Homo sapiens: one gene and its partners. The protein of the gene in region 1 purifies or fractionates together with the protein of each later gene. This does not show direct contact. Each region holds a gene or a part of one and is shown on either strand. Other genes may lie near its edges. The genes, in order: LECT2, CSPG4, KIAA0232, DICER1, MCCC1, ITIH2 and VWA5B2.

Region 1 (3,511 bases):
AGTTATGAGTTAACTAGAGTTCATTATTTTCTTGCTCGCCTTCGTATATGATTTTGTTATATAAAAAGGAAATTGTATTTTAACTGTTTTAATGTTATAAAAAGAATTATCATCCATTATGTAATCTTCTGGACTTTTTAAAACTTAAAATTATATTGCCATGATTCATTCAGGTCATTATGTTTAGCTGAAGTTCATTTATTGTGACTGCTGTTGACTATTACATTCTATAACTTTGAGATTATTTATTGGATTTCACTGTTGATGGGCATTTAGGTCACTGAAGGTTTTGCTATGAAAAATAGTGATATCATGAACATTCTCATACATATGCCCTGATACACAAATGCAGCCATTTCTCTAACAATAAACTTCAGTTAATTATGTTTTCCTCTAACAATCTACACATAAGAATATAATCATTCTGCTGGCATTTTCTGCATTCCGAACAAATTTAAGCAGAAATTCATGAAGTTTCCAGAATGATTAGTTCAATGTATTCATTTCTTACCAACTGGCTAAACTCTAAGGAGCCAGAATTATTTCTGGTCCTTTGGACATTTGTATGGTCTTGTTTCCTCATAGTACCTGTTGTCAATATAACTAAGACAGAATAACATAGATATAATACAATGATGTGTAGAAATAAGTAGCTGTAATATGCATATGGCTAGATGAAGTTGACAGGCCCAATTCCATGAGACACTTCAGATAAAGGTAGGCCTCATTCTCACTCTAGTCCTTCCTGTAGTGCAGCCTCACTGTTTTCTTGGGATATGTTTTCTTGGACTGCCATCATTCATAATCATGTGGGTGAGTGGATGGAAATACCAGCAAATCCTTTATTATCCATGAAAGCAGCTCTCTCTCCAACCAATATGATAAACCTAAGGATATTGCTGAGAGTCTACTACCTAAACTCAACTTATTCATTGAATATGTATTAAATGTATACTAAATCTAGCATTATAAACCACTCACTGTTCTTGTACCATAGAAACACTTTCAGGCTTTTTCTTATTTTCAAGCAGAAAGGTTGCTAGTTTTAGAGGTGTCAAAAATGCAGCCTGGCCCAGCGTAAGTTCTCTTGTTTATTTATCTTAGATCTTCGGGACTGAGAAATCTAAAAAATAAAACCACTCAGATTCCATAGGTGACAGATCAAAGAGCCCGAAGCAACCAGTTCACATGAACATCAGAGTGACAATGAGTTAAAATCAAAATGTTTTCTTTCTTGCATTTATCATGTTTCTATTTAAACTCAAATTTCCTTTTTTTAATTAAAAAATTTTTGTGGGTACATAGGTGTATTTGTTTATGAGGTACGTGAGATGTTTTGATACAGGCATGCAATGTGTAATAATCATGTCATGGAAAATGGGGTATCCATCCCTTCATGCATTTTTCCTTTGTGAACACAAATTTCTTGAAGAGAAGGGTATGCATCCAGGTTTTTAAGATGACTTTTTATTTTGAAGATCTGACCATTGGCCTTCGATTTACAGGTATGCAGTAGGGTCACTCGAGTCACAGTTTTCAATGTGCACATGCGATTGTATGCCAGGATAAACTTTCTGCAAGGGCAATAGAGTTCCAAGTTTTTCTCCCTTCTTAATAGGACCTTTATACTTAATTGGCTTAATGTAGAACATTTTGACACAAAAACCTAAAAGAAAATAAGTATAATTATTTATCTGGGCTTCAGTAATCTTGAATCTGAAATTAAAAAAATAACAAATGGACAAAAAATAAAAAAAAGAATGTTGAATGAACTCAGGAGAGGAATAGATGAAAATGACAAAATGATATTAAAAAGGAAGACTAAATTACAAGATGCCAAAGGAAGAATAGATTCAAATGAAACGCTAATAAAGGCATTGAAGAATAATAGCAGGAAAATACTAGCTAGTTAGAAAAGGTGAGCCCTGAACAATGTCAACTCCAAAACATATTCTGATAGAATGATTGGACTTTAGAGATAAAGAAAAATAGAAATAACTGGAACAAAAATACAAACTTTGCTAAATATCAAAAGAATTAAAAAGGCAAAGACCCAAGTAGAGAAATAGAGTACAATATAATAATTATACAATAAAATGGTGTTGGGTACAAATACAGGAGTCATGTCTATAAATGTGAATGGCCTTATCTTGCCTATTAAAAGATGTCCCATTGGGTTGAAAAGCAAACCCCAATTGAATGCTGTATGGAATAAAACACAGCGATTGAAAAGGCTGAAAGTGAAGAGCTGGACAAAGATTTGCCAAGCACATGGACAAAGATTTGCCAAGCAATAAGAAAGCAAGGGCTATTGTCCTGTTACCAGAAGAGTGGAAATCAGGCCAAAAGGCATTGAAACAAGACGAAGATAATGTAAGAGGGTAAATGCCACAAGTCACAATGAAGATATAACAGTTACAACTATCCATGCACTAAATAGCACAAGTCATCTATATAAAGCAGACACTACAAGAGATGCCAGGAAACATAGATAGAAACCCACCAATAATAGGAGACTTTGATACACTAGTGGCACTGCAAACCGGTCAAGTGAGCATAAAAATAAGGCTGTAAAATTATGCTGTCCAATATGGTAGCCACTAGCCACATGTGGTTATGCAGCACTTGAAAGGTAGTTAATATGAATTGAGATGTGCTTTAATGGTAAAATACACAGTGGATTTTGAAGACTTAGTATTTAAAAATGTAAAATATCTCAATAATTTTTGTATTACATATTGATATAATACTTTGAAAATATTGAGTTAAATAAAATACTAAAATACCATGTTTTTTTACTTCAACATGGCTACTAGAAAATTTAAAATAATAATAATAATAATTATTATTATTATTTTTTTGAGACGGAGTCTTGCTGTGTCACCCAGGCTGGAGTGCAGTGGCGCGATCTCGGCTCACTGCAGGCTCCGCCTCCCGGGTTCACGCCATTCTCCTGCCTCAGCCTCCTGAGTAGCAGGGACTACAGGCGCCCGCCACCACATCTGGCTAATTTTTTGTATTTTTTAGTAGAGACGGGGTTTCACCGTGTTAGCCAGGATGGTCTCGATCTCCTGACCTCGTGATCCATCCACCTCGGCCTCCCAAAGTGCTGGGATTACAGGCACGAGCCACCGTGCCCAGCCGAAAATTTAAAATTATATATATGACTTCTGTTATATTTCTATTGGATAGTTCTGCTGTAGAAGAGCTAAAACTCCATCAGGTAGGTTTTACGAATAAATATTAAACAAAAGATGTGCAAGACCTCTACACTGAAAACTACAACAACCATTAATATAACAGTGAAGGAAGACCTAAGTAAGTGGAGGACATAATATGTTCATTGATTGGAGGACTCACTACTTTAAAAATATTAGTTCTCAATTTGATCTGTATATTTACTGCAGATTCAGTCAAAGCCCCAGCAGGATTTTTGGTGGAAATTAGCAAACAGATTCTGTAATTTATTTGGAAATGCAAATAACCAAGAATTGCCAAGGCAGTCTGAAAG
Region 2 (4,221 bases), on another chromosome or scaffold:
CTTCTCTCCCCAAATATATCATCCTCCCTGGTCAAGGTGATCCTGTGTCCCACGGACTGGCTGATCAGATAGAACTAGGCCATCAGATAATAATCCACAACCGCTGGCACCTTTCCACTTCTACTCAAGCTGCTCCATGCAACAGGCCTTCCCTTTTCCCCCATCCTCCAAGGCTCAGCTCCAGTATCGCCACCCCCAGGAGCCTGTTCTAACCACAGATTGCTCTGAGACCCATGACCTGGATGGCCCCTCTCCTGGGGCCCTGCCCTCCATCTCTGTGGGGTTACAGGCCTTTCTTCCCCTACCCTCACCTGGCCTCTGTCCCCGGTTCATGACCTTCTTCAGCCTGACACCCAGTAAGTGCACATGCGTGTGTGTGCACACACACACTCACACACACACATACACATTCACACACACATACATACACTCACACATACACACTCACACACACGCAGTATTGCTCAGTAGGCAAGGAGAGTGTCCTGCCCCGAGCCAGCAGCCCCAGGGAAAACCCCCAAAATCAGGACACAGTGCCTCGTTCCCCCGCCAGGGCAGGCCCTCTGGCCTGGGCCAGTCCACTCTCTGGGGAGACAGAGGGGGCTGGGGAGAGGAGACGAACTTCCGTTCCCACCTAAGAGCAGCCCCTTCCCCCACCCACATTTCAGGAAGGGGCAGCTATAAATACCAGTGGGACCAGGACACTGATTCCCACGACACCCGCTTCTCCCTGCCCCTTCCCTGTGCACAGTTGCTGGGGCCAGACCAGCTCTCCTGCAGCTAGAGTCCAGCCAGGCAGGCCTGAGGCCTAGCCACACACACACAGAGACACAGACATACGCACACAGGCACACACAGACATAGATACACACAGACATACAGACACAGACACATGCACACAGACACACATACGCACACACACACGCACACAGACATATACACACAGGCACAGACACACACATATGCACACAGACACATACAGACACAGATACACACACACACTTTTACTTCCCACCCTGGTCAAGGAGGAGCAAATCACCCTTTTTGGGAGTCTGCGAGCAGCTGAGAGGGAGCCCCTCCCCTGCCCCTCAGCCCTGACCCAGGCCCCATCTCTCCCTCCTCTGAGTCCTGAGCTGTGGGAACCCACACAGGGAAGCAGGAGGCCAGGCACATGGTGGTGAAACACGGCATTAGAGAGCTCAGGTTGAATTCCAGCCCTGACGCTCTATGCATGACCTTGGGCAAGTGACTCTGTCTTTCTGAGCCTCAGTTTTCTCCTCTCTAAAATGGGGATAAATAATTCCAACCTCTTACGTGTTGTAAGGATTAAGCAAGACACTTTGCCTGGAATCAATGCTCGGTGGACATCTGCTCCTGAAGCTGCAGTCACTCTGCTATTAGCATCTTCTTCCCAGGGTGGAGTGGCCCGGCAACATGGGGACTTCTGCTTAGGAGTGTTTAAGGAAGATTCCGAGGCAAAGGCCTAGAGGAGGTGGCCCCGTGAGTCTGTGTGGGACTAAGTGACATGGAAAAGGAGAGGTGGGCTCTGGAGAGGGTATCAGCCAGCGGCTGCCTGCCAGCCCAGGACCCTTCAGAAGGTGGGAGGGGGTGGGGGTCTGCATCTCTGTGGCTAACTGGGCTGAGGCCCACACCCCTCTCTCAGTGCTAGAAGAAGTGGGGACAGCCCCTGCCTGGCCCTCCCCAGGGCCTGTTTCTCCCAAGCCTAACAGCCCCTAGGATGGGGCTCACTGGGCCGGGGCACAGCAGGAACCCCCTGTCCCCAGAGCAGGTGAGTGAGGAGAAGAGAATGAGCAGGCCCCAAGACCTTTTATGGGACGGGGACCCTAGAAGCCTGTCTTTTCCCTGCTCTCTACCAACCCCTCGCGAGTCCCTCTCTGGAGGTGGGGGCTGGAGGCCAGGGCCCAGGGACGTGGGACAGCTCACCTGCCAGAGTCACCATGGGGCTGTTACCACCACTCATGATATAAGCAGTGGTGGCTGCATCACGAGGAGCAGAAATCCGGACTGAGGGAGGGGACAGCCCTCTCCGCTCTGGGCTGCTAGGACCCCTCAGTGGTATGGGTGTATGTGAGCTCAGAGTAGGGGGAGGTGTGGGGAGGTGACTGAGGTGACTGCAGAGTGGGGTGCACAGCTCGGGGCAGGGACACTGGAGGGACCCCGGACAAGGGCAGGCCTGTGCCTGAGCCCTCAGGGCAAGATCCCATTGTGCAGGCCCCCACTGCCTTCACCCACGTAGAGGTGACTCTTCTCCACAGACCCCTGGACAGGGCCCGGCCAGGCCCCCCACCCACATGTTTTAATGGAATCCAGGTGGCTGCCCCTGGCCAAGGTTCCATCTCTGGGCATCTGGGGCCCGTGTGCTTCTGGCCACCCATCTGGAGCCTGGCTGAGCCCCTCCAGGGGTGGGTACTCAGACGGGGGCTGTCCCTCCAACCGTGGACAGCCCTGGGGCCAGCGAGATATTGTAGAGGCCTGAGCCAGCTGGCTGATGGTGCCACAGCCCTTGGGCTACCTGGCCCTGCTATGTGGCCTTGGGGAGACCCCTGGCCCTATCTGGGCCTCTGGGTGGAATCTTCAGTCTCCTAGGTCAGCTCTAAATTCTGAGCTTGAGCCTCTTGGGAACAGGACAGGGGCCTCTGCCTCTATCTAGAGAGAGCCAGCTGCTTGTCCTGGGCCAAGCAGCAAGGCAGGCTAGGCCTGGAATGGGGCTGAGAAGCAGCCCAGCCTGCCAGGACTCCCTGGCATTGGAAAGCCACTTTCCTAAGTTGGCATGGAGCCCTGGGGCTCCCCCCGGGATGAGAGCAGCGGCTCCTCTCCACCCCCGGCTCCCATCTTCCACCCCCTGGCCCCAGCCCCGCCCTGCCAAAAATAAACCCAGACCACCCCATCTTGTACCAGCCAGACCCACCCAGCCCCTCCAGAGCCAATTGAGTCACCACTCAGAGCTGCTCCTTTTTTAACTGTCTGAGTCACTGCTTGTGGCTCCATGACACATGCCCCAGGCTACGGTTACCCCACAGCCCCTACAAGCGCAGCCAAGGGAGGGGTCTGCGTAGAGGCTGGCAGCAGGTGTGAGTCCAGGCCATAGCCTTAGCTTGTGAGCCCTCCAGGCCTAGGGAACTCACTCCATAACAAGCCAGAGACCAGACCTGTCCCTCAAGGTCCCGGCCGTGCCCAAGACAGCCCTTGGGGATCTTGGTGACAAGGTCAATCTGGGCTCTGCCCCACCGCATTGCGTTGCCTCCAACAGGCCTGGGCCTTCCCCGTGGAGACTGCCGGGAACGGAGGGTCTCCAGCCCCTAGACCCTGGAGGCTGGGGGTGGGCGAGGCCACAGAGACGCCTGCTTCCTCCCTCCTCACCGGCTCCACCCGGACTCTGACCACGCTGCCTGGAGCACCATGAAGACTCTATGGGACGGAAGCCACACTTCAGTCTCCCCTCACGGCTTCTGTCTGCCCCTGCGCAGGGTCACCCGGGCTGCAGAGCACCCCCGATCTCTCAGTCCATCCCCCCATCCCGCTCTCTCCATCTCTCTGTCCTTTCCCACCCCTGGCTGTGGTTCCTCCATCTCTTTCTGTCTGTCTTTCCTACCCTGTCTCTCTGTCTGTCTGCCCATCTCTCCAGTCCTGCTCTGTTCTCCTTCCCTTCTCCTTTACCGGGTTCCACGGCAGTCAGAAGTGCTCCCTGCCGCCAGCACCCCACCCGTCCCCAGGGCCCTCTCTGCCTTCTCAGTAGACATAACAGACCCTCACCTCCTCCCATTCCCACAAGGGACTCTGGGCCCCAGGGACCAATCCTGAGAAATGTTCCGCTCCCCTCACCAGGTCCTCCCGTGCCCCAAAGTGCAGGCTACATCCTGTCCCAGGGAGTGTCAGGATCCCACAGGCACTTCCTTGGGGGTTGACAAAGGCGGGCAGGGGGGCCTGGGAATGGCCCCACCTCCCAGTCCATGCTAGAGCAGGGGCCTGTAAGCCTCAAACCCCATCCGTCTTCTGTCTGTGGCTGTGGCCTCCGGCTATAAATAGGGGCTCGGATTCTATTTTCTTTAAAAACAAGCACCAGACTCTGTCACCACAGGCCCAGAAAAGCAGTCTCTGGCTCTGGCAGTCCCTCGAGCCCTCCCAGGCCATAGTGTCCAGTCCCCTGCCTCTGAGCCCTGGGGCTCTGGAGGGCAGAGGAGGCCTGGAAAGGAGACTGGA
Region 3 (4,221 bases), on another chromosome or scaffold:
AAGAGCTCCTCTTCACTAGGGCCCACCCACTCGCCTCCGCCTTCTGAGCCTGTCTCTTCCGAGGTGGAGCTGGCGCTGGAGCACATCTTTCCGCGGAAGCCATCTGACTTTGCTCCAGAATCTCTCTCTCCTGTACATCTTGCTTCATAAACAGAAGACACCTAAGATTAAAACAATTTTCAACACATCAAAAAGACTTTTTTTTCCCCAAAAGGGTGAGATACTCTATCTATATACAAAGAAGAAATAATAAATCATCAGTGTTTTCCTGTGGAGTTACAAACATGCAGAGTTTTACTGTTTCAGAGCAAAACCGCCTCTCTTCTCTGATCCATGAAGGATCCAAAATCCTAATTCCACATGTTCAGTCACTTGGACAAAATGTTAGCCATGTTAGGGTAGGATAAAGAATTATTTCATTTTCAAAGTCTTTGAGTACCTGCTATGCACCAGGAACTTTACTGGGCACAGGGACTCCAGCAGTGGAAGGCGCATGCCAGGCTCGCTGGGGAGATGAACGAGCAAACCAACATGTGCCAGTTGCAGTGACACAGTACCGATGGTGAGGGGGGCACTGCAGACGGGTGTGTTGGGAAGGGAGTTTGCAGTGACACAGTACAGATGGTGAGGCGACACTACAGACCTGTGTGTTGGGAAGGGAGTTTGCAGTGACACAGTACAGATGGTGAGGGGACACTGCAGACCTCTGTGTTGGGAAGGGAGTTTGCAGTGACACAGTACAGATGGTGAGGGGACACTGCAGACCTCTGTGTTGGGAAGGGAGTTTGCAGTGACACAGTACAGATGGTGAGGCGACACTACAGACCTGTGTGTTGGGAAGGGAGTTTGCAGTGACACAGTACAGATGGTGAGGGGACACTGCAGACCTCTGTGTTGGGAAGGGAGTTTGCAGTGACACAGTACAGATGGTGAGGCGACACTACAGACCTGTGTGTTGGGAAGGGAGTTTGCAGTGACACAGTACAGATGGTGAGGGGGCACTGCAGACGGGTGTGTTGGGAAGGGAGTTTGCAGTGACACAGTACAGATGGTGAGGGGACACTGCAGACCTGTGTGTTGGGAAGGGAGTTTGCAGTGACACAGTACAGATGGTGAGGGGGGGCACTGCAGATGGGTGTGTTGGGAAGGGAGTTCTTTGGAGAAGAGGCCCGCTCAGCTGAGAAGCCAGCCATGCAGAGGTGCCAACACTCTGTGGTGTCGGACTGTCTCCCCTACACCAGATGGTCAGCATCTCTGGACCCCAGGACATGAGATGCAGTGGTGGCCCCTCCTCAGTCACAGTCATTACAAAGCTCCCCTCACCCTGCCATAGTAACTAGCAGCACTCCCACCTCATTTCCAAATGGCAGCATTGCCCCTGGTTGAGAACCCCTGAGGCAGAAGCACAGAAAAGCCACACAGAGTAAGGGGAGAGCAGAGACAGATGAGGTCAAAGGCAGACGGGGGCAAAACATACAGGGCTGTAGAGGCGTGGCGGGGAGTTTGGATCTGTCTCAAATGCAACAGCAAAGTGACATCATGGTTAGCAGTATGGGTCCTAGAGGCAGACTGCTGAGGTTCAGAGTTCAGGTCCACACTGAAGCTGTGGCTCTCTGGCCTCGGATACACGGCGCCTGATGTTTTTGTGCTTCACTTTCCTATTTTGCAGAACAGGCATGACAACAGTACCTACCTCACAGGGTCGTTGTGAGGACTGAACAAGATACTGCTCGTGAGGTCATTCTGTCTGCTGTGTGGAGAGAAGGCTGGAAAGGATGACGAAAGCAGGAAGGACAATGAAAAGACCATGGCAGCTGTTCAGGAGCAGGGACAGTGGCTTGAACAAAGTGGTAATGATGGAGAGGAGGAGAAGTGGGAGATGCGAAGTGGCTGACAGCGGGGAACGGTCAGGACTGGCAGGCAGACTGTGTGTGGAAGATGAGAGAGAGGACTGGGGAATATGTCTCAGTTTGGGGTTTGAGGCTGGAGGGATGATGTGAACTAGTCACTGAGGAGAGAGCTGGTGGGGGCCTCAAACATCTGCCTTCATGTGTGGAGCCGGACAGGTCAGTGGGCAGCAGGACGTGGACGATGATGCTACAGGTGCTTGGGCAGACAGTTCTCACAGGACTTGAATGGACACTGACAGATGGTTAATACTGAGTGTCAACTTGATCACATGCCGTGTGATTCAAGTTAACGGGAAACTACAACAGCCCAGTCCAGACAGGATACAAATGGCTCAGACTCTTTAGGAATGAAGGTTTAGGTCACTCCACCGGGAAAAAACCACAACCTGCTGAGGTGCTTGCTGAAGGCAAAGGGAATACAGAATGGGTAGTAGAAGAAGGTAGTCATCAATACCAGCTACGACCATGTGACCAGGTGCAGAAACCAGGACTGTAATTGTCTTGAGGAGTATTTCCTCCTTCGTTAAAAACACGTTTGTGCATGTATACACTTGTACTAAGAAAATCTCATTTTATTTTTTGTCCTTTATCATGTGACACAAGATTTATGTATGTATATATTTATGTATGTATGTATGTATGTATGTATGTATGTATGAATGAATGATGGAGTTTTGCTCTGTCACCCAGGCTGGAGTGCAGTGGTGCGATCTCAGCTCACTGCAATCTCTACCTCCTGGGTTCAAGCAATTCTCCAGCTTCAGCCTCCCAAGTAGCTGGGATTACAGGGGTGCACCATCACGCCCGGCTAATTTTTGTATTTTTAGTAGAGATGGGGTTTCGCCATGTTGGCCAGGCTGGTCTTGAACTCCTGACCTCAGGTGATCTGCCCACCTTGGCCTTCCAAAATGATGGGATTACAAGCGTGAGCCACAGCGCCCGGCTGACATAAGATTTATTGACTTCATATCAGCATTTAAGTATTGTTAACTCTATGTAATAGTACTTGGGTTTGGGATTGGTGCTTTTCCGGTTGTATGAAGCATAGCTGTATTATGTTAGGTATAATTATGACCTTATTGTCTTTATTTGAAGATTACATATAATTTCAGGAGATGTGTATGGGTTCAAATTGACAAGGGGTGGACTTGTTATGGTTAATACTGAGTGTCAACTTGATTGGATTAAAGGATGCAAAGTACTGATCCTGGGTGTGTCTGTGGGGGTGTTGCCAAAGGAGATTAACATTTGATCCAGTGGGCTGGGAAAGGCAGACCCACCCTTCATCTGGGTGGGCACCATCTAGTCAGCTGCCAGCGTGGCTAGAATATAAAGCAGGCAGAAAAATGTGAAAAGACTAGACTGGCCTAGCCTCCCAGCCTACATCTTCTCCCATGCTGGATGCTTCCTGCCCTCGAACATCGGACTCCAAGTTCTTCAGTTTTGGGACTGGGACTGGGACTGGCTCTCCTTCCTCCTCAGCTTGCAGATGGCCTATTGTGGGACCTTGTGATCGTGTGAGTTAATACTTAATAAACTCCCCTTTGTGTATATATATACCTATTCCATTAGTTCTGTCCCTCTGGAGAACCCTAATACACTGACAATTCACACCAAATAAAAAGAATTTTCCTTAGGTTCATTTGCCTGCCTGCCTCTTAACCGGGGAAGGTCTAAGACGAGACTAAACCAGGCGGAGGCCCCGCTCCCGCCTTCGTGGTGCCCACAGGCTTGTGGAAGAGGCAGACATGCAGAAACGGAACGCAAGTACATGCTCTGGCTACAGCAAGAAGAGTCGTGCACAGAGTGCAGGAGGACACGGAAAGGGCGGGATCGTTCTGCAGAAGCCGGGACAGCGGCAACAAGCACACTGGCAAGGCTGCCTCAGGGTGCACTTTCAAAGAGGACAAGGCTAGGTCTCCCACTTATTAGGTAAACAAAAAAAAAAAAGATGAAAAGTGTGCCCACCCAAGGAGCAACAGGGTCAGCTCTGCATTTGTAATGCAATGCCCTCGGGCAGTAGTGTAGAGCCAAGACTGGGGAGAGAGCTGGGGATTCTTCAGGAAGCACTGGCAGTCAACAGTCAAGGGGGTTTGGAAGCGGGGGAGAATGCAGACTCAGAACAAAGGCCAGAGAACAGGAAGTCTGCACCCACAGGCCTGGCTGGTTCCTGGGAGAGGTGGGGTCCACTCACATGACTCCCAGGTTTTTGACTACAGTGACAACTGGAGGTGGTGGCTGTTTGTAAGTTAATGACGAGGAGGAGGACAGTCCACTTACCCTATTAAAATCTAACAGGCGCTCTTCATTA
Region 4 (4,221 bases), on another chromosome or scaffold:
CAAGTTTTCGAGGAGGATTATCTATACTGGTTCAGCTATCTTAGTTGGTCTCTGTAGTAGTGATACCAAATGTAACAGTGCCTTAAACGTCTCTTAACTTTCCCTAAATAACACATTCTTCATCTGCTATGCATGAATTAACACATCATCCTTGAAATCATACTTCAATTCAGTGTATAAAGCCAAGTGTTTTGTAAAATAAACCTCAAGTTAGGTTTTATGTTTCCTTATGATTAGATTCAGGTTTCAGCTGGGCACAGTGGCTCACTCCTGTAATCTCAGCACTTTAGGAGGCCAAGGCAGGAGGATCTCTAGAACCTAAGAGTTTGAGGTAGCAGTGAGCTATAATTGTGCCACTGCACTCCAGTCTGGGCAACAGAGCGAGACTCTGTTCCCCTCTTTCCCCCGGCAAAAATAGATTCAAGTTTTGTACTTTCAGTAGGAAAACTACATTAGGTATGTGTTGTCAGTTTGTCCTAATACTGGTGATCTTAGCTTTGTCACTTGGATTAAAGGGGTATCTATCTGGTTTTTCCACTGAATAAAAATACTAGTTTTCATTTGTAATTAGTAGGTAATCTGCAGAAAAGCTTTCAGGCTATGTAAATATTCTTTAGTAACCTTCACCCAATGGTTTTAGCATCCATTAATGATCCTTGCTTCAATCACTAATGTGATGGTTAAAAATGGTGACTTTTCTGTCATTCCTTCTACATTTATTAGTTGACATTCAGTAGAGTTTCGCCTGAATTTTAAACCTAACAAAATACGATTTCTTTTTTGTTGTTGTTAATGCTGAGTCTTGCTCTGTCTCTCAGGCTGGGGTGCAGTGGCGTGATCTTAGCTTACTGCAACCTCTGGCTCCTGGGTTCAAGCGATTCTCCTGTGTCAGCCTCCTGAGTAGCTGGGACTACAGGTGCAAGCCACTATATTGAGCTAATTTTTGTATTTTTTAAGTGGAGACGGGGTTTCACCATGTTAGCCAAGCTGGTCTCGAACTCCTGACCTCAAGTGATTCACCTGTCTCTGCCTCCCAAAGTGCTGGGATTGCAGGCATGAGCCACCGTGCCCGGCCTACAAAATACAGTTTGTAAAATGAGAAACTAAGTTGAGAAATAAGACTGTCTTGAGTTGGGTTTTCCCAGTTGCACCTGTAACTTTAAGAACTTTAAAATTGTTTCTGAAACATCTTCAAGGTTGGAGTCAGATTAGTTTGCATTAATATGGAAGAGAATTTTGTAGTGGTTGGAAGTTAACTGAGAAAACTAGGATGGGTATAGTCAGATGATACCAAAATTATCATTGCACTAACTGATACCTCTCTAGCTTTGACAGTTTCTAGTTAGCCTCGAATTATTCTTTTGGACTTGGGTGCCAAGATCGAGGATGTTAAGCTTGTTGAAATAATTTGGGTTGTTTAAAGTCTTTTAATTTAAAAGTGTCTAATTTGAGTTTTATATTTGACCTATAAAAAGCTGCTTTAATTCAATAGTTAAGATCAATAAAGCTTATTCTCAACATCGAATTAATTAATAAAAAATTATTCATGGATATTTACTTTCCTACATTCCAAACTACCTAGTCATTACAAATTTACAGTAACGTGAAAATCAAACAAATCATGAACTATGTAATATGAATGTGAGTATAGTATGAGATTATCTTTCAAAGATCTTAATACTCTTGAGGGAGATGGCAATAACAGCTAATATATGGGGCAGTAATATAATGAAGCCCGTGATGATTTGGGTGTTGTAGCTAGCCCATGTGTGCTAAATGAGAGGGGAGGGGACTAAAGTGATAGAGGTTTTTAGGGAAAGTTGTGGGGTGGGGTTCGTGAGAGGTGGCGAACTCTGTTGGTACACACTTGTTTTGGTGTTACGGGAAAGGCAGATAACATGAGATGTTGCGCAGAAGCTATGATGATGTAGTGCGTCACACTCTTGCCTGGACCTTTTAATATATTTGCTTTCCTGTCTCAATAAACATCCATCTTAACTCAGTAGTCTCTTATGTTCATTTTGTCTCTGGATTGACCTCCCTTTAGTATTTAAGTATTCATGTTATATATCTTAAAACAGCTTGACAAAGAGAAAATTGTGGCTCCTTTTTCCCAATGGATGCTCTTTCTTGGTGTAAAGGTAGAGGGTAGTCGTGAATTGAATAAAATTCTAGCACTCGTTGCACAGTGTTAAGAGTAAAGTATGTGCCTGTAGTCTCAGCTGCTCAGGAGGCTGAGATGGCAGGATCACTTGAGCCCAGGAGTTCAAGGCTGTAATGTGCTCTGATGGTGCCTGTAAATAGACAGAGTGAGACCCTGTCTCCAAATAAAAAATAAAAAAAAAGAGTAAAGTACAGAAACTTGGAATCAAATATGAACCTTAAAACTCACCTTGAAAGCTAGTGATGTGTTAAGTATTTATGTCTCTTGAAACAAAACTGTAGGACAAATGTCATTATAGGTAACTTGAAGGGGAGGGGTGGGTATCTGTGCTGTTTTGATGTGTTGAAATGTCATCTTTCTGAGAAGTACTCCAAGAAGTAAGCGGACCTTTGGCTTGCAGCCTGGAGACACTTCTTATATGGAGATCTTTGATGGGTGGAATTTGTTAAGATGGTATTTGACCTGTGTTCCACTTCAATTTTGGACCAATCTAATTTTAGGCATGATTATATTGAAATCTAAACATAACATATTTATGTTAGAGATTTAGAGAAACCCAGAAATTTATTTGGTTCAGATACAGTAATGCATGAAAAGAAGGCTAATGAATTTGTGGTTTAAATTGTAGGTACTATGATACTGTAAAATATATATTTGGTCTGTCCTCTACCCTATTCTTAGGCATACAAGGCTTGAAATCCTTAGAATCTCCAAAGTGATGTGTTTTTGTATGCTAATGATCGACTGGTGGCCGGTAGCTCCTGGTAGCTTCAAAATGGGGGCTGGTTACTGGGAAGACTAAGGCATGATTAGAGGTTTGGACTCAGACCCACCCTCCAACCTCTGGGGAGGGAAGAGGGGCTGAAGGTTAATCATGCCCAGGTAATGAGTCTTCATAAAAACCCTGAAGGACAGAGTTTGGAAAGCTTCTGGATAGTTGAACACATGGAGGTTCCTGGAGGGCAGTTTGCTCTGGGAGGGCTTGGAAGCTCTATACCCCTTCTCCATACCTAACCCTGTGCATGTCTTCATCTGGATCTTTGTAATATCCTTTACCTAATTAATTTACTTATTTTTATTGAGATGGACTCTCGCTGTGTTGACCAGGCCGGTCTCGAACTGCTGGCCTCAAGCGATCCTCCCATCTTGGCCTTCCAAAGTGCTAGGATTACAGGCGTGTGCCACTGCACCCAGCCTGTAATATCCTTTATAATAAACTGGTAAACATAAGTAAGTTTTTCCCCAAGGACTGTGAGCTGGTCTAGCAAGTTAAATCCCAGGAGGGCGTTGTGGGAACCCCAGTTAACTGATTGGTCGGGAGCACGGGCAAAAAATAACCTGAGGTTTGCAATTGACACGGAAGGGTGGGGGAGGTCTTGAGGACTGGAGCCCTCAACCTGTGGGATCTGATGCTATCTCCAGGTAGATAATGTTGGAATTCAGTCATTAATAGAAGACACCCAGCTGGTGTCCGCTGCAGAATTGATGGCTTGCTTGTTGTTGGGGAGAAACCCCACACATTTGGTCACAGAAATTTTATGTGGTGTGTGAGAACAAAGGAAAAACAGTTTGTGTGTGTTTTTTCCCACTCAGATATTCAGGTAAATGTTACCACATTTTGTGCCTTAACGGGGGAGGTTTTTACTCATTAATTCATTCATTCTAGAGACAGGGTCTTACTCTGGAGTGCAGTGGTGTGATCATGGCTCACTGCAGCCCCCCAGGCTCAGGTGATTCTTCCGCCTCAGCCTCCTGAGGAGTTGGGACTACAGGCACATGCCACCACACCTGGCTAATTTTTATATTTTTAGTAGAGATGGGGTTTTGCCATGTTTCCCAGGTTGGTCTCAGAATTCCTGGGCTCACGTGATCTGCCCACCTTGGCCTCCCAAATTGCTGGGATTATGGGTGTGAACCACTGCACACGGCTGGGAGGATGTTTTCAATACCTAAAACAGAATTGTATGTCTCTAGCTTATCGTCACACAAATCATCCACAGTTTGAAAGTTTGTTTTCCAATTCCCAATTCTGTGTGTTCAAGTTGTAGGAAATTTAA
Region 5 (4,221 bases), on another chromosome or scaffold:
ACTCAAATTGTGGGAGAAAATATTTGCAAAGTTTGCATCTGACAAAAGTCTAATATCTAGCATCTATAAGGAACTTAAACAGATGTGCAAGAGAAAAACAACCCCATTAAAAAGTGGGCAAAGGACAGCCGGGCACAGTGGCTCACGTCTGTAATTCCAACACTTTGGGAGGCCGAGGCGGGCAGATCACACGGTCAGGAGATGAGACCATCCTGGCTAACATGGTGAAACCCTGTCTCTACTAAAAATACAAAAAGATTAGCAGGGCGTGGTGGCAGGCACCTGTAGTCCCAGCTACTTGGGAGGCTGAGGCAGGAGAATGGCGTGAACCTGGGAAGCAGAGGTTGCAATGAGATGAGATCATGCCACTGCACTCTAGCCTGGGTGACAGAGCAAGACTCTGTCTCAAAAAAAAAAAAAGTGGGCAAAGGACATGAACAGGCACTTCTCAAAAGAAGACATACATGTGACCAACAAACATGAAAAAAAGCTCAATATCACTGATCATTAGAGAAACGCAAATCAAAACCACAATGAGACACCATCTCACACCAGTCAGAATGGCTATTACTAAGAAGTCAAAAAAATAACAGATGTCAGGAGGTTGTGGAGAAAAGGGAACGCTTATACACTGTTGGTAGGAGTGTAAATTAGTTCAACCATTGTGGAAAGCAGCAGGGTGATTCCTCAAAGAGCTAAAAGCAAAACTGCCATTCAACCCAGCAATCCCATTACTGGTTGATACCCAGAGGAATATAAATTATTCTACCATAAAGACACATGTGCATGTATGTTCATTGCATCATTCACAATAGCAAAGTCATTGAATCAGCCTAAATGCCCATCAGTGACAGATTGGATGAAGAAAAGGTGGTACATATACACCACGGAATACTATGCAGCCATAATAAAGCATAAGATCACATCTTTTGCGGGAACATGGATGGAGCTGGAAGCTATTATCCTTAGCAAACTCCCACAGGAACAGAAAACCAAATACTGCATGTTCTCACTTAGAAGTGGGAGCTGAATGATAAGAACTTAAGAACACAAAGAAGGAAACAAAAGACACTGGGGTCTACCTGAGTGGGGAAGGTGGGAGGGAGAGGAGCAGAAAAGATAACTATTGAATACTGGGCTTAATACCTGGGTGACGAACTCTGTACAACAAACCCCTGTGACATGTATTCACCTGTGTAATCTTCACATGCACCCCAAACCTAAAATAAAAGTTAATAAAATAAAATTGAACTTTGGTTTAAAAGATATAAAACTCTAAACTGGCTGCAACATATGAGTATCCAGCATTTTATCTGTATCTGGCATTGCATTGTTTCCTGTCACTAGGATGTGGGTTTTTCTATTCGTATGAGTTTCCCAGATATGTGAAGCTTACCCCTTTAATTTTGAAATGTTCTTTGAGTGTAACTATTTTGAAACAGGATTGGCTGAACCTTTGTGTTTTTACATTGTTTTGGTCATAATTATAATACTCGCTCACATTTTAGAAGAACAAATCCCCTCAGGGCTACTGATGTTGGAGAGGGTGTGGCTTCATCACTCATTAAATCATCCAAGTCTTCTCTGCCTTTTGCCTCCTTCTGTTTCTTCCCTTTTTGCTGTCAGCGTGTTTACTTTTAGAAATCTTGCTGTCCTTCAGTTACTGAATTTCCTCTTCTGTGGGCTAAAATCCCAGTAAGTATGTTTGTTAAAATTCTGAGTACACTGGAAGTAACTAGGCTGAAGTCTGAGGGATGCCCTTTTCACTGAAAGTACACGTACAGTTGTCCCCTTTATCCACGGTTTTGCTTTGAGTGGTTTCAGTTACCTGCAGTCTACTATGGTGTGAAAATATTAAATGGAAAATTCCAGAAATCAACAATTGATAAGTTTCAAATTGCACGCCATTCTGAGTCACACAGTGAGATCTTGCACAGTCTGCTTTGTCCCTCCCAGGATGTGAATCGTCCCTTTGTCCAGTGTCTCCACGCTGTCTCCACTCCCCATCTGTTAGTCACTCAGGAGCCATCTAGGTTATCAAATTGACTGTCATGGTACCACCATGCTTGTGTTCAAGTCACCCTTATTTTATTTAAATCATGGCCCCAAAATGCAAGAGCAATGATGGTGGCAATTCACTTATGCTAAAGAGAAGCCATGAAATGCTTCTTTTAAGTGAAAAGGTGAAAATTCTCAAGGAAAGAAAAAAATATGTATGTTGAGGTTTCTTGGTTCTTGGTAAGGACCAAGTTTCTATCTGTGAAATTGTGAAGAAGGAAAAACAAATTCATGTCATTTTCCTGTTGCACCTCAAACTGCAAAACTTATGGCCACAGGGCATGGCAAGTACTTAGTTAAGATGGGAAAGGCATTACATTTGTGATTGGAAGACATGAACAGAAGCGTGGTCAAATTGGTATCAGTCCAGTTCTGTAGTATTCATAGTTTCAGGCATCCACTAGGGATCTTGGATAAGGGGACACTCCTGTAGACTTTAATACATGACTTTCATTTGCTTCTTAGCTTTTTTTCTGGAAAGATGACATTGATGACCTGAAGATAAGTGAGGTATTTATTGAGCTAGTGTTCTGTTTGGGGCTTTTGGATGCCATGATTTCAATTCTAGGCCAGTTTTACACAGAGACAGAATAGACAAATTCCCCTTACCACTCTGAAGCCCTTTACTTCTTGACATTCTACCCTAATTGCAATATTATTTTAAATTTAAGTATATAGAAACTTCTGTACCATATGATCCAGCAATTCCACTTTTGGTATACAGCTAGAAGAATTTAAAGCAGGGACTCAAAACAGATACTTGTATACCAATACTTGTTGTTCACAGCAGCAGTATTCACAATGTGTAGAAATAACACAATGTCCATCAAGAGATTAATGGATAAACAAAATGTGTACAAACTGGATATTATTCAACCTTAAAAACAAATGGAATTTTGATACATGTTACATGAATGAACCTTGAAAACATTATGCTAGGTGAAATAAGCCAAACTCAGACAAATTATTATACGCTTCCACTTACATGAGGTACTTTGGCTAGAGAAATTCATAAACAGAAAGTAAAATCCTGGTTACTAGGGACTAAGGAAAGGGAGGGAATGGAGAATTATGTTTGGAGATTAAAACATCCTGAGGATGGATGGTGATGACAGTTGCCCAACATTGTGAGTGTACTTAATGCCACTGAATTACATACTTGCAAGTAACTAAAATGGTCAGTGTTTTGCTATGTATATATTATCACAATAAAAAGAAATATAGATTCATCTGGTTTAGGTAAGCCTTCAGAGCTTTCATATGAATATTTCAGATATTTCTTTGGAAACAGAGTTTAATAGAGACCATACTATTACCAGTGTAGGGAGAGGCCTCCCAGAGGAAGACAGCTTCACCTGCATTAAGGTGTTGCCAGTTGAGCACTGATGAGTAAATTTTTTATTTTATTTCTCATTTCTAGGCTATCCATCCAGGATGCGGTTTTCTCTCAGAAAACATGGAATTTGCTGAACTTTGTAAGCAAGAAGGAATTATTTTTATAGGCCCTCCTCCATCTGCAATTAGAGACATGGGTATAAAGAGGTATGAGTTTATATCTTTTAAAATATAACTGTATGAAGGTCAGTTGAAATAGTTTGGGCCAGGCATGTGGCTATGCCTGTAATACCAGTGTTTTGGGAGACTGAGGCAGGAGGATAGCTTGAGGCCAGGAATTCAAGACCAGCCTGGGCAACTTAGTGAGACCTTGTCTCTCAAAATTCTTTTTTTTAAATCAGCCAGGCCTGGGCACAGTGGCTCACACCTGTAATCCCAGCACTTTGGGAGGCCAAGGTGGGAGGATCACTTGAGCCCAGAAGTTTAAGACCAGCCTGGGCAACACAGGGAGACCCTGTCTCTACAAAATTTTTTAAAAATTCCAGGCATGGTGGCACGTGCCTGTGGGTCCAGCATCTTGGGAGGCTGAGGTGGGAGGATTGCTTGAGCCCAGGAGATCAAGGCTGCAGTGAGCTGTGATCACACCATCATACTTCAGTCTGGGTGACAGAGTAAGACCCCATCTCAAAAAAAAAAAAAAAAATTCAGCTGGGTATGGTGACACACACCTGTAGTCCCAGCTGCTTAGGAGGCTGAGGCAGAAGGATCACTTGAGCTCAGAAGTTTAAGGCTGTAGTGAAGTATAATTGCACCACTGCACTCTGGCAT
Region 6 (4,221 bases), on another chromosome or scaffold:
ACACACGGTCCCCCATATACACGGCCTTCCCCACTATCAACATCCATCCCACATCAGAGTGGTGCATTTGTTACAATGGAAGAAGCTGACACATCATTATCACGCAGAGTCCACAGTTAACGTGGCTGACCCTTGGTGTTGTACATTCTATGGGTTTGGTTAAATGCATAATGACAGGTGTCCACCATTGGAGTATCATATAGGGTATTTTCACTGCCATAAAAATGCTCTGTGCTCCACCTACTCACGTATCTCCCACTCCCCAACCTTTAGCAACTGCTGATCTTTTTATAGGAATTGTTTTAAAATCAATATTTAACTTCTGCAACAATTTGCTATATACCTGTAAATACATCTAGTGTGCTTCTGTCAGAGAGGGAGCTATTTCTCGTTTACTTCACAGTCATAGTTTACAGCCTTGCGTATTTCTTCTAACCTTATTGACATCAGGGATTTTCTCTATGAGTTCAGTCATACAACTGCATTTCATTTTCCCAGCCTCATTTAGACCCTGTTCCACCTTCCTGAGAATCCTGTCTTATAGACAGAATGAGGCTTGGGAATGGGAACTTTTATCAAACACCTCTGTGTAATTTTGATGCAGGTGGTCAACCATCCATTGCTCTGGGGATATAGTTTTCATGTTGGAGAGTTGAGATGCAGCTCAGCTGAGAAGTCAGAGGGGCCATGGATGAGCATGGGGGAGCCCTTCCTTAGGGAACATCATAATCACATAATCATTAAATTCTCTTTGGACAAGAAGCCGTTTTCAAGAGTAAATGCAAATAAATTACTGATACATGAAGCAACCAGAGGGGACATAGATGAGCATAGGGGAGCCCTTCCTTAGGGAACACCATAATCGTTAATAATCATCAATTTCTCTTTGGACAAGAAGCCATTTTCAAGAGTAAATGCAGGGCTGGGTGCAGTGGCTCATGCCTGTAATCCCAGCACATTAGGAAGCCGAGGCAGGCGGGTCATGAGGTCAGGAGATCGAGACAGTAAATGCAAATACATGCCTGATACATGAAGCAACATGGATGAATCTCACCAACATCATATTGAGTGAAAGAAGCCAGGAACAGAGGAATACAGATTGCATGATTATGTGAAATTTAGGATCAGGCAAAACTGATGATCACAGACATTGAAAGAGTGGTTACAGTGGAGGAGGGGGGTGGGTGTTGAGGGAGAACAAGGGAACCTACATCTGGATCTGGGTGGTGATTACACGGATGATAGATATAAAAATCCATTGAATGGTGCACTTAAAATTAATGCATTTTGGCCGGGTGCGGTGGCTCATGCCTGTAATCCCAGTACTTTGGGAGGCCCACTCGGGTGGATCACGAGGTCAGGAGACCGAGACCATCCTGGCTAACATGGTGAAACCCCGTCTCTACTAAAATACAAAAAAATTAGCTGGGCGTGGTGGTGGGCACCAGTAATCCCAGCTACTCAGGAGGCTGAGGCAGGAGAATGGTGTGAACCCGGGAGGCGGAGCTTGCAGTGAGCTGAGATGGCGTCACTGCACTCCAGCCTGGGAGACAGAGCGAGACTCTGCCTCAAAAAAAATAAAAATAAATAAATAAAATAAAAATTAAAAAATTAATGCATTTTGCATACTTTACTGTATGTTATACCTCAATAAAGAAGAAAAAGAGTGAACCCAGCTTTCTCTGAAGTGTTCAGAACTAGTGGAAGGTAATAATCCAAGCCTGTGCTAATGTGCTGTCTTTCTTGCTTCCAAACTCTTTTTGTGTATGACTTCATATATTCACGGTGGACATTTCAGTTTTGCAGATCTCGTGGTGTGGGTACTCTTCTCTTCTTACCGTTCAGCTAGCAGTTGGTTGATGGTTAGATAGGCCCACAGTTTCCTGGTGAAATCGGGATCTGCATGCTTGTCTTTCGATAGAAAATCCTGCAAGTCGTCCATCTGGGCCAGGGTCTCCAAGACTAACTGCGTGTTAGCCTAGATGATGGAAGGTTCAGTTGAGAGACACTGGGTAACAGAATTATAGTTCATTGATTCACATTTTTAGTACCTGCTGCGAATGAATGGGAATAAAAAAGAAATGGAAGGCAAAGCCTACGGAGGAAGGAAATGCATTCCTGTGCTTGGGATTGGGCTTGGGTGAAAAGGTCAGGATTTATGGAATAGCTGGGAAGATGGCAGAGATATTCTCATGCCTTCTCCATCACTGATTGCTTCTGTTCTACACCCATGATTCCAGGCAGGCAGAGCTGACATTCAAGAGGGACTGTATCTAGGGGGTCAGTTAGTAGATAGAATAAATGGATAAGTGGAAGTACCGAAGTCGCCGTGATAACGCTCTCTATTTGATCCAATTTAGCAGGGTCAAATTTTCCTGCCACCACAATCTCTGAGCCTCCAAAGTAGTTATGGAAATTGTTTTGAGTGACGTCCGTGACTGATGTATGGGGATAGTTGAACTGAACATTCCGGAGCAATGGAGTGGAGACCTGGTTGTAGAATTTCTACAATTCACAGAGAGAGAGAGAGAAATTATGTTCCTACTGCTTTGTAGATCTAAAGCATTTTATTTTATTTATTTATTTATTTTGAGACGATGTCTCACTCTGTTGCCCAGGCTGGAGTGCAGTGGTGGGATCTCGTCTCACTGCAATCTCCGGCTCCTGGGTTCAAGCAATTATCCCACCTCAGCCCCACAAGTAGCTGGGATTACGGGCACCCGCCACCAAGCCCGGCTAATTTTTGTATTTTTAGTAGAGACGGGTTTTCACCATCTTGGCCAGGCTGGTCTTGAACTTCTGTCTTGTGATCTGCCTGCCTGGGCCTCCCAAAGTGCTGGGATTACAGGGATTACGCCCAGCTGATCTAAAACATTTTACTCTGAGATTCTTCAAAGAATCAGCAGATACCTCTTAATTTATTCACACAGGACGTTTGGGACAAGGGAAAATGCTCGTAATTATCAGATTAAAAACAGAGAGAAGACAAAGACTTGTTGAGAACATTACCTTTGGTTTAAGAGCCTGGCATTTTTTTCCCTTTCTGTTACGGTCAGCGTGAAAAACTCTTGGACAAACTTATGATAAAAGTCAGCAGGAGGTCGGGCATGGTGGCTTGACCTGTAATCCCAGCACTTTGGGAGGCCAAGGCAGGCGGATCACCTGAGTTCAGGAGTTTGAGACCAGCCTCGCCAACATGGTAAACCCTGTCTCTTCTAAAAATACAAAAATTAGCCGGGCCTGGTGGCACATGCCTGTAATCCTGGCTACTCAGGAGACTGAGGTGCGAGAATCGCCTGAACCCAGGAGGCGGAGGTTGCAGTGAGCCGAGATCGCAGCACTGCACTCCTGAACCACTGCACCACACCATTGCACTGCCATTGAACGTACTTGTCACCCAGCCTGGGTGACAAAGCAAGACTCTGTCTCAAAAAATAATAGTAATAATTAAATTTTTACAAAAGTCAGCTGGGTTAATAGTCCCCAAATCAGAATCTTATCTCTTACTTGTTCCCAAATTTAAATACGATGCCTGGTACTGACAAAGAGCAGGGAAAAACATGTTCTTTCCCTACATCATTTTCTCATCTATTTAATCAAAACAAACAAGTAGTTTGTGTCTTTTCAATATATGTATTTTAATTAAAAAAATTATCTGTTGAACAGATGGATCTCACTATGTTGCCCAAGCTGGCCTTAAACCTCTGGGCTCGAGTGATCCTCCCACCTTGGCCTCCAAAGAGCTGGGATTACAGGCATGAGCCACCACACTCAGCCTGTATCTTAATACTTAAGAAAATTTACACTGTGAAAAATTGATACCAAGATGCCAATGCACGTTAAAGAGAAAACGGTTGGCCATGATGATAAGAAGACCAATTGCTGGTGGGGCAGGAGAGCTACAAGGAGCTTTGATGACGCTCAGAAGGCCTTTTTGTTCAGGGGGTAGGACAGCTGTTCCCAACACCCATCTGCCTCATACCTCACTGTTACTGCAGAAATATGAGGGTGGGGGGAAACATGTGAGAAAGGAACTGGGCACTTCCCTGATCCTTGCAACCAAATATGGCTGAGATCATGACCATTTTGAGTTAAGTTCAGTTATGCATCATACCTGCATCAGATATGGGTAGTTAAATGATTTCCAGTGAAGAATAAAAAAAGAACAGAAGAAAATGTTACCTTAAGCTGGGAAGACGTGTCCTGGTTTCCATAAATCCT
Region 7 (4,926 bases), on another chromosome or scaffold:
TTACTGCCCCACCCAAGGTGCCAGGCAGCCAGCACTGGCTCCCCACCCCCTGCCCCTCATCCTGCAGGGTGCCCTATGCTTTTTGTGGAGCCATTCACCTGTCTCTCCCTCCATTTGCCTCAGCTAAGGAGACCTTCCTAGCAAGATCTCAGGGTTGGTCCAGCTTTGCAGCAAAGTTTGACTTCTGCCAGTGTGTGTGTCTGGTCTCTGATAGGGATGCTATCTTCCTGGGAGGCTGTCTTACATCTAAGCTCTCCTCAGGACCAAACAGAAGGACCTCTTTTTCCATTTCCATGTGTCGGAGACCTCCCTAATGACTGCTATTTGCAACCTCATGTTTGTCCAAGGGCTACATGTAGCTCTTGGTTCATTTGTAGAAGGGGCAGAGCACAAGGTGCTTGTGGAAAGGTGGCCACTGCCTGGACCTTTGTGAGGCCCTCAGGGCCAGGGCTGGTCCTACCTGAGGCCCTGGATCACCTGGAGGGACCATCAGCCCATCCACTGTTTCTCCCTAGGCCTGAAAGAGGGACCCTCGTTCAGGATGAAGCTGAGAACAGACTCAGTAGAGAAAGGGGGAGAGAGGTGAATGGAACCATGACCCAGGTAGTATGGAAAGAGGGCTAGGACCCAGCTGGAGCTCCCTGTGTGTTGGGTACGTGTGACTGTGTCTGTGCTCCCTGTATCATTCCTGTGCATTTCCACCCATGAAATTCCCTGGGAAAAGGTCAAGCTCTCTCCACCATGCTAAGTAGGGTGAGCAAAGGAGATGGTTGGGGTTGAGGGCTCAGATACTCAAGGAGGCAGGGATCCCCCGGGGGGATGATCCCTGGTGATAGTGATTGAAATCAGAAGGAGAGAGTTAATGCGGAGGAGTGAGAACCATGGGCCCGACTCGAAAGCTCACTTCCTACTGGCTGTCCTCCATCCCCAGCTCTCCTCAAGCTCTCTCTGCAGAATCTCAGTATGGCATCTGCCAAAAAGCTTACATGGATGATCCCCAAACATGGTCATCTCCTCTCACTTCCCCAGGGCTCTCAGACTCTTCCTTGGGGGACCTGGGAGAGGTTTTCCGGACCTTCCTACTTTTTGACAGCATAACACTGTCAAGCACATGCAAAGTCTGCCAATAACAAGGGGCCCTCCTGACAAGCAGAGATGTTTTCTCTTCAGGGCTGCGGTGATGGGTGGGGGTCACTGCTATGAGGGGACGGTCTGCAGCCATAAGAAGGCTCTTCAGGCTAGAAGGCTTCACTCCCAAGGCCCGCACAGCTGAAGAGACCAAGGGGTTATAGGCTGAGGGCGCTATTGTGCACACCCTCCCACCCCAGCAGAAGTGGTTGGCACTGCAGCGATGCCAAGGCCGGCTGCTTGGGGGTGGGAGGAGGTCGCTGCAGTGATGAGGAATCCCTGCTTGGAGTGAGTGGTCACTGAAGTGGCTGCATGAACTAAAAGTACCTGCAGGGATGGGGGAGGTTTTCTGCAGTGATGAAGAGCACTTTGCAAAGGAAAGGGGCCAGCTTCTTGGGGGAAGAGTCCTGCGGTGACGGTGATGGGGGGCTGGGGGGTTCGCTGCAGTCAGGAGGGAGGGTCTCTGCAGCGATGGGAAGCAACCCAGGGCAGGGGGTGGGGTGGGCTGGGGAATGGGATGCCGTCGTGGTAATGGGATAGCTGGGGTCGCGGCAGTGTCGGTGGCACTTGCAGGACGCCTGATTCCTGAAGAATGGAAAGGGTGGGGTCTCTGAGGCCTCGGTCCTGCAGTGACGGGGATCCGTGCGGCGGCGGGGACGCGGTCCCTGCACTGCGGTGCCCAGTCTGGCTCGGGCTGCCGCGGCTGGCGCGGAGGCGGTACCGCGCCCGAAGGAGGGGGGAGCGCCAGCCCCGCCGCAGCAGCAGCAGGCGTGGCCAGGGCAGGCTGGAGGGGCGGCCTCTCGGAACGGGGGCGGGACCACCGCCGGCAGGGCCCGCGCCCCTGCCGGGACTCAGAGCCGCTGCAGCCACAGTCACGAACTGGCGGCCGGCAGGTGCCGGGACCGAGGGCCACCCGGAGCGCAGAGGCGGCACCACCCACACGGATCCCGTGGGCACCTAGAACTCCGCGGAGGGCGCGACGGTGAGGCTGAGACTGCCACAGGGAGCGGGGCGATCCCCAGAGCCAGCCCGCGGCATCCCCTGCGCGGGCCGCGGCCACTGCAGGTGCCCCCTCCTCCCACATCAGCTCTGCCGGGGTAGGGAGCGGTAACCTGGCGGCTCCCACGGACTCTCCCTGGCCCGACACCTCTCCCGGGCTTGCCTCCCAAAGACCCCCTCTTTTCGCTTTCCCAGCTCGTTCTTCCCACCCTTAACCCCTCCACTCCGGCCAGCACCCCCGTCGGATGAGGCACCAGGGAGAGAAAGACCAAGGCCCTTTCGGCGCCCCATCCACCCTGCCCCCGCGATCCCTCGCAGGGCCGGGGGCCTCCGGGGGGATTCGGGCCCTTTAAACCTCCGCCTTCCCGGAGCATCTTCCATCTCCACCCGCGCCGCTTCCGACAGCTGGCGGCCGCGGGGGGCCCCGGGGGGCCGGCAGGTACGGGGGTGGCTGCGAGGTTGGGAGTGGGCGGTGGAACAGCTGTGACCGCCCCCACCCCCGGGGGAGCCGCGGCGGGACTGCTGGGCGCCGAAGCGCGCGTTAATCATTAACCCTCCGCGGCCCGGCTGCCCAGGTAACGCGTGAGGATGCCCTCCTCGCCACCACGCCTGCCGCCCCCTTATCTCCCCCGCCACCTGTCGCCCTCAGGAGCTCCCGCTCGGCCTCGCGCCCCGGCAGGCCCCGTCCGGGTGCTGGAGTGAGACTCTCGCGCTGGCCTCTGGAGCGCGGGGTGGGCGTCCCGTCACCCTGCGCCCAGCTTCCCCGGCCCGTTCCCGCAGGGCCGGCCTCCCGGCGCCATGCCCGGCCTGTACTGCCCCTCCAGCTGGACGCCGCTGCCGCTCACGGACTCCTGGGTCCGGGCCTGCGCCAACGGCCCCTGCCTCAGCGTGCGGGCCCGGCTCACCTACCGCAACCCGCAGCCGCAGCCGGTGGACGGTGAGGCCCGGGTGGGGCGCGGGCGCGGCGGGGGGTGCGCCGGGCAGGGTCCGACGCCGCCTCCCGCCGCCCTCCCCAGGCGTGTTCGTGTACCCGCTGGCCGAGGCCGAGGTGGTGTCCGGCTTCGAGGCCGAGGCCGCCGGACGGCGCGTCTCCTTCCAGCTGCAGAGCCGGCGCCGCTCGCAGGCCGCCTGCTGCCGCGCTCTGGGCCCGGGGCTGGGGACCCCGACGCCCCGCCGCTGCGCGCAGGGTGAGTTCCGCGCGCCCGCACCCGCGCTCCTGAAAGCCGGGCGCAGCTCAGGCTCCCGCATCCGCTCGGCCTCCGCCCGTCCCCCGCCTTCCTCCGGGCACTGCCTTGTGCATTCATTGGCTCATCCTGGTATTTAGCAGTCGTGGGCTGGGCACCTGACCTGCGCCAGGTGCTGGGAGAACATGGCCCGGAGGTTCACAGCCTGGGAGACAGACACAGCAGGCAGCACAGGGCTTGCGGGGGCGCCAGCAACCCTTACAGCCCAGGAGACCGGTCTCTCTAGGGGGCTGCAAAGGGAGCCTTCTCCCCTGGTGGTCCCCTCCGGCCCCTTACTATTTTAGGCTGCACACCTCAATCCGGCCCCGCGTGGGCCAGTGAATCAAGTGTAGACTCCTGTGCCTAGCAGCCAAGGCCCTCGCTCTCACCCCATTCCATCCCTCTCCCAGCGACCCCATACACCAGGTACCGCTGCCGCTGGCCACACTGACTGACAGGTCCTTTCCCAACTCTCTGCTCTGTCTTTCCATCTTCTATTGAGCAAATTCCTACTTGTCCTTTAAGATCCACTAAACGTCATTCCTAGGGAAACCCTCCCTGACTCTCCCACAAATAGCTGCACTGTTTCCTGGCTCCCCAGCCTTTTGTGCCCCCTCGTTATGGCACTTACAGGGGGAGTCATTGTCACAGATCTGCCTGTCTGTCTCCCCGCTGGAGCATCTCCAAATCCCAGCACCTCACACAGAACCTGGCACTATGAGGCCCAGCGAGTGCCCGGGGAAGGGACAGAAGCCCAGCCCTGTGCTGTGTGCTGTGCTTGCACCTGGTTCTTTCATTGATTCATTCATACATGGCTTTGATTCCTGCCCAGGGGATTTGCAATCCAGGTAAGAAGAAGAGGAACAGAATCCAGTGGTGTTGAGAGCTGGCATAAGCCCAGCACGTTAGGGGCTTGTGGTTAGAGGCTAGAGTGAGCTCTGGGCTGAGGCCCCAGGAATGTTCCAGAAGGAGGTAGAGCCAGCATTTGACTGCAAGAAAGGGTAGGACTCAGTTAAGTGGAAGGTAGGGGCAACAGTATAAGCAAATGCTTATAAGTAGGTTACAGTGGGTAATGACAATAAAATATCTCATGTTTATAGTGATTTACAGTTTACAATCGCTAGTATCACCTCATTTGAATCCCAAGTAGTGGGTAATGCAGGCTTCTTCCTGTTATGGGGGATGGAAGGGGGATAATCCCCCTTCCTCCTGTTATGGGGGATGAAAGTCATAGCAGGGGTCACTGACTTATATGTTGGGTGCTTTGCATACATTGCCTCATTTGTTCCTCACCACAATCACAGAGTTATTATGATCCCCACTTTATGGATGAGGAAACAGGCTCCTCAGAACAAGAGAGCTGCCAAAGGACTCAATTAGAGGTCACCGAGCTGATATTTAAAACTTGATGCTGTGCTGTCTCCACTGTGTCGGTTGGCTGGGATGGAAGCCCCTTTCTTTCTTTCCTTCCATCTTTTTCTTCCCTTCAGTTATTCAGCAAGTATTTATTGAAAGGATGAACAATTGGTCATTGTGAGGAAGTGAGGTACAGTAGGGCTGTGAACGTGGGCTGGGG

Evidence for each region.
Region 2: the proteins of LECT2 (region 1) and CSPG4 purify together in Homo sapiens (affinity purification with mass spectrometry; one large-scale study listed by BioGRID and IntAct). This does not show direct contact.
Region 3: the proteins of LECT2 (region 1) and KIAA0232 purify together in Homo sapiens (affinity purification with mass spectrometry; one large-scale study listed by BioGRID and IntAct). This does not show direct contact.
Region 4: the proteins of LECT2 (region 1) and DICER1 purify together in Homo sapiens (affinity purification with mass spectrometry; one large-scale study listed by BioGRID and IntAct). This does not show direct contact.
Region 5: the proteins of LECT2 (region 1) and MCCC1 purify together in Homo sapiens (co-immunoprecipitation; one large-scale study listed by IntAct). This does not show direct contact.
Region 6: the proteins of LECT2 (region 1) and ITIH2 purify together in Homo sapiens (affinity purification with mass spectrometry; one large-scale study listed by BioGRID and IntAct). This does not show direct contact.
Region 7: the proteins of LECT2 (region 1) and VWA5B2 purify together in Homo sapiens (co-immunoprecipitation; one large-scale study listed by IntAct). This does not show direct contact.

What each region holds. Positions count from the first base shown.
Region 1 is NC_000005.10:135,945,832-135,949,342, forward strand, and holds the end of LECT2 (leukocyte cell-derived chemotaxin-2 precursor), read right to left. Parts: intron 1,667-3,511; coding exon 1,500-1,666; 3' UTR 1,073-1,499; downstream 1-1,072. UniProt on the Homo sapiens protein: Has a neutrophil chemotactic activity. Also a positive regulator of chondrocyte proliferation. Does not show metalloendopeptidase activity.
Region 2 is NC_000015.10:75,702,612-75,706,832, reverse strand, and holds part of CSPG4 (chondroitin sulfate proteoglycan 4 precursor), read left to right. Parts: intron 1-4,221. UniProt on the Homo sapiens protein: Proteoglycan playing a role in cell proliferation and migration which stimulates endothelial cells motility during microvascular morphogenesis. May also inhibit neurite outgrowth and growth cone collapse during axon regeneration.
Region 3 is NC_000004.12:6,876,727-6,880,947, reverse strand, and holds part of KIAA0232 (uncharacterized protein KIAA0232), read right to left. Parts: coding exon 4,191-4,221; intron 162-4,190; coding exon 1-161.
Region 4 is NC_000014.9:95,147,056-95,151,276, reverse strand, and holds part of DICER1 (endoribonuclease Dicer), read left to right. Parts: intron 1-4,221. UniProt on the Homo sapiens protein: Double-stranded RNA (dsRNA) endoribonuclease playing a central role in short dsRNA-mediated post-transcriptional gene silencing.
Region 5 is NC_000003.12:183,071,745-183,075,965, reverse strand, and holds part of MCCC1 (methylcrotonoyl-CoA carboxylase subunit alpha, mitochondrial isoform 1 precursor), read left to right. Parts: intron 1-3,478; coding exon 3,479-3,600; intron 3,601-4,221.
Region 6 is NC_000010.11:7,730,095-7,734,315, reverse strand, and holds part of ITIH2 (inter-alpha-trypsin inhibitor heavy chain H2 precursor), read right to left. Parts: coding exon 4,183-4,221; intron 2,506-4,182; coding exon 2,320-2,505; intron 1,979-2,319; coding exon 1,839-1,978; intron 1-1,838. UniProt on the Homo sapiens protein: May act as a carrier of hyaluronan in serum or as a binding protein between hyaluronan and other matrix protein, including those on cell surfaces in tissues to regulate the localization, synthesis and degradation of hyaluronan which are essential to cells undergoing biological processes.
Region 7 is NC_000003.12:184,227,604-184,232,529, forward strand, and holds the start of VWA5B2 (von Willebrand factor A domain-containing protein 5B2), read left to right. Parts: upstream 1-1,981; 5' UTR 1,982-2,110; exon of another isoform or gene 2,111-2,193; intron 2,194-2,749; exon of another isoform or gene 2,750-2,776; 5' UTR 2,777-2,925; coding exon 2,926-3,064; intron 3,065-3,143; coding exon 3,144-3,314; intron 3,315-4,926.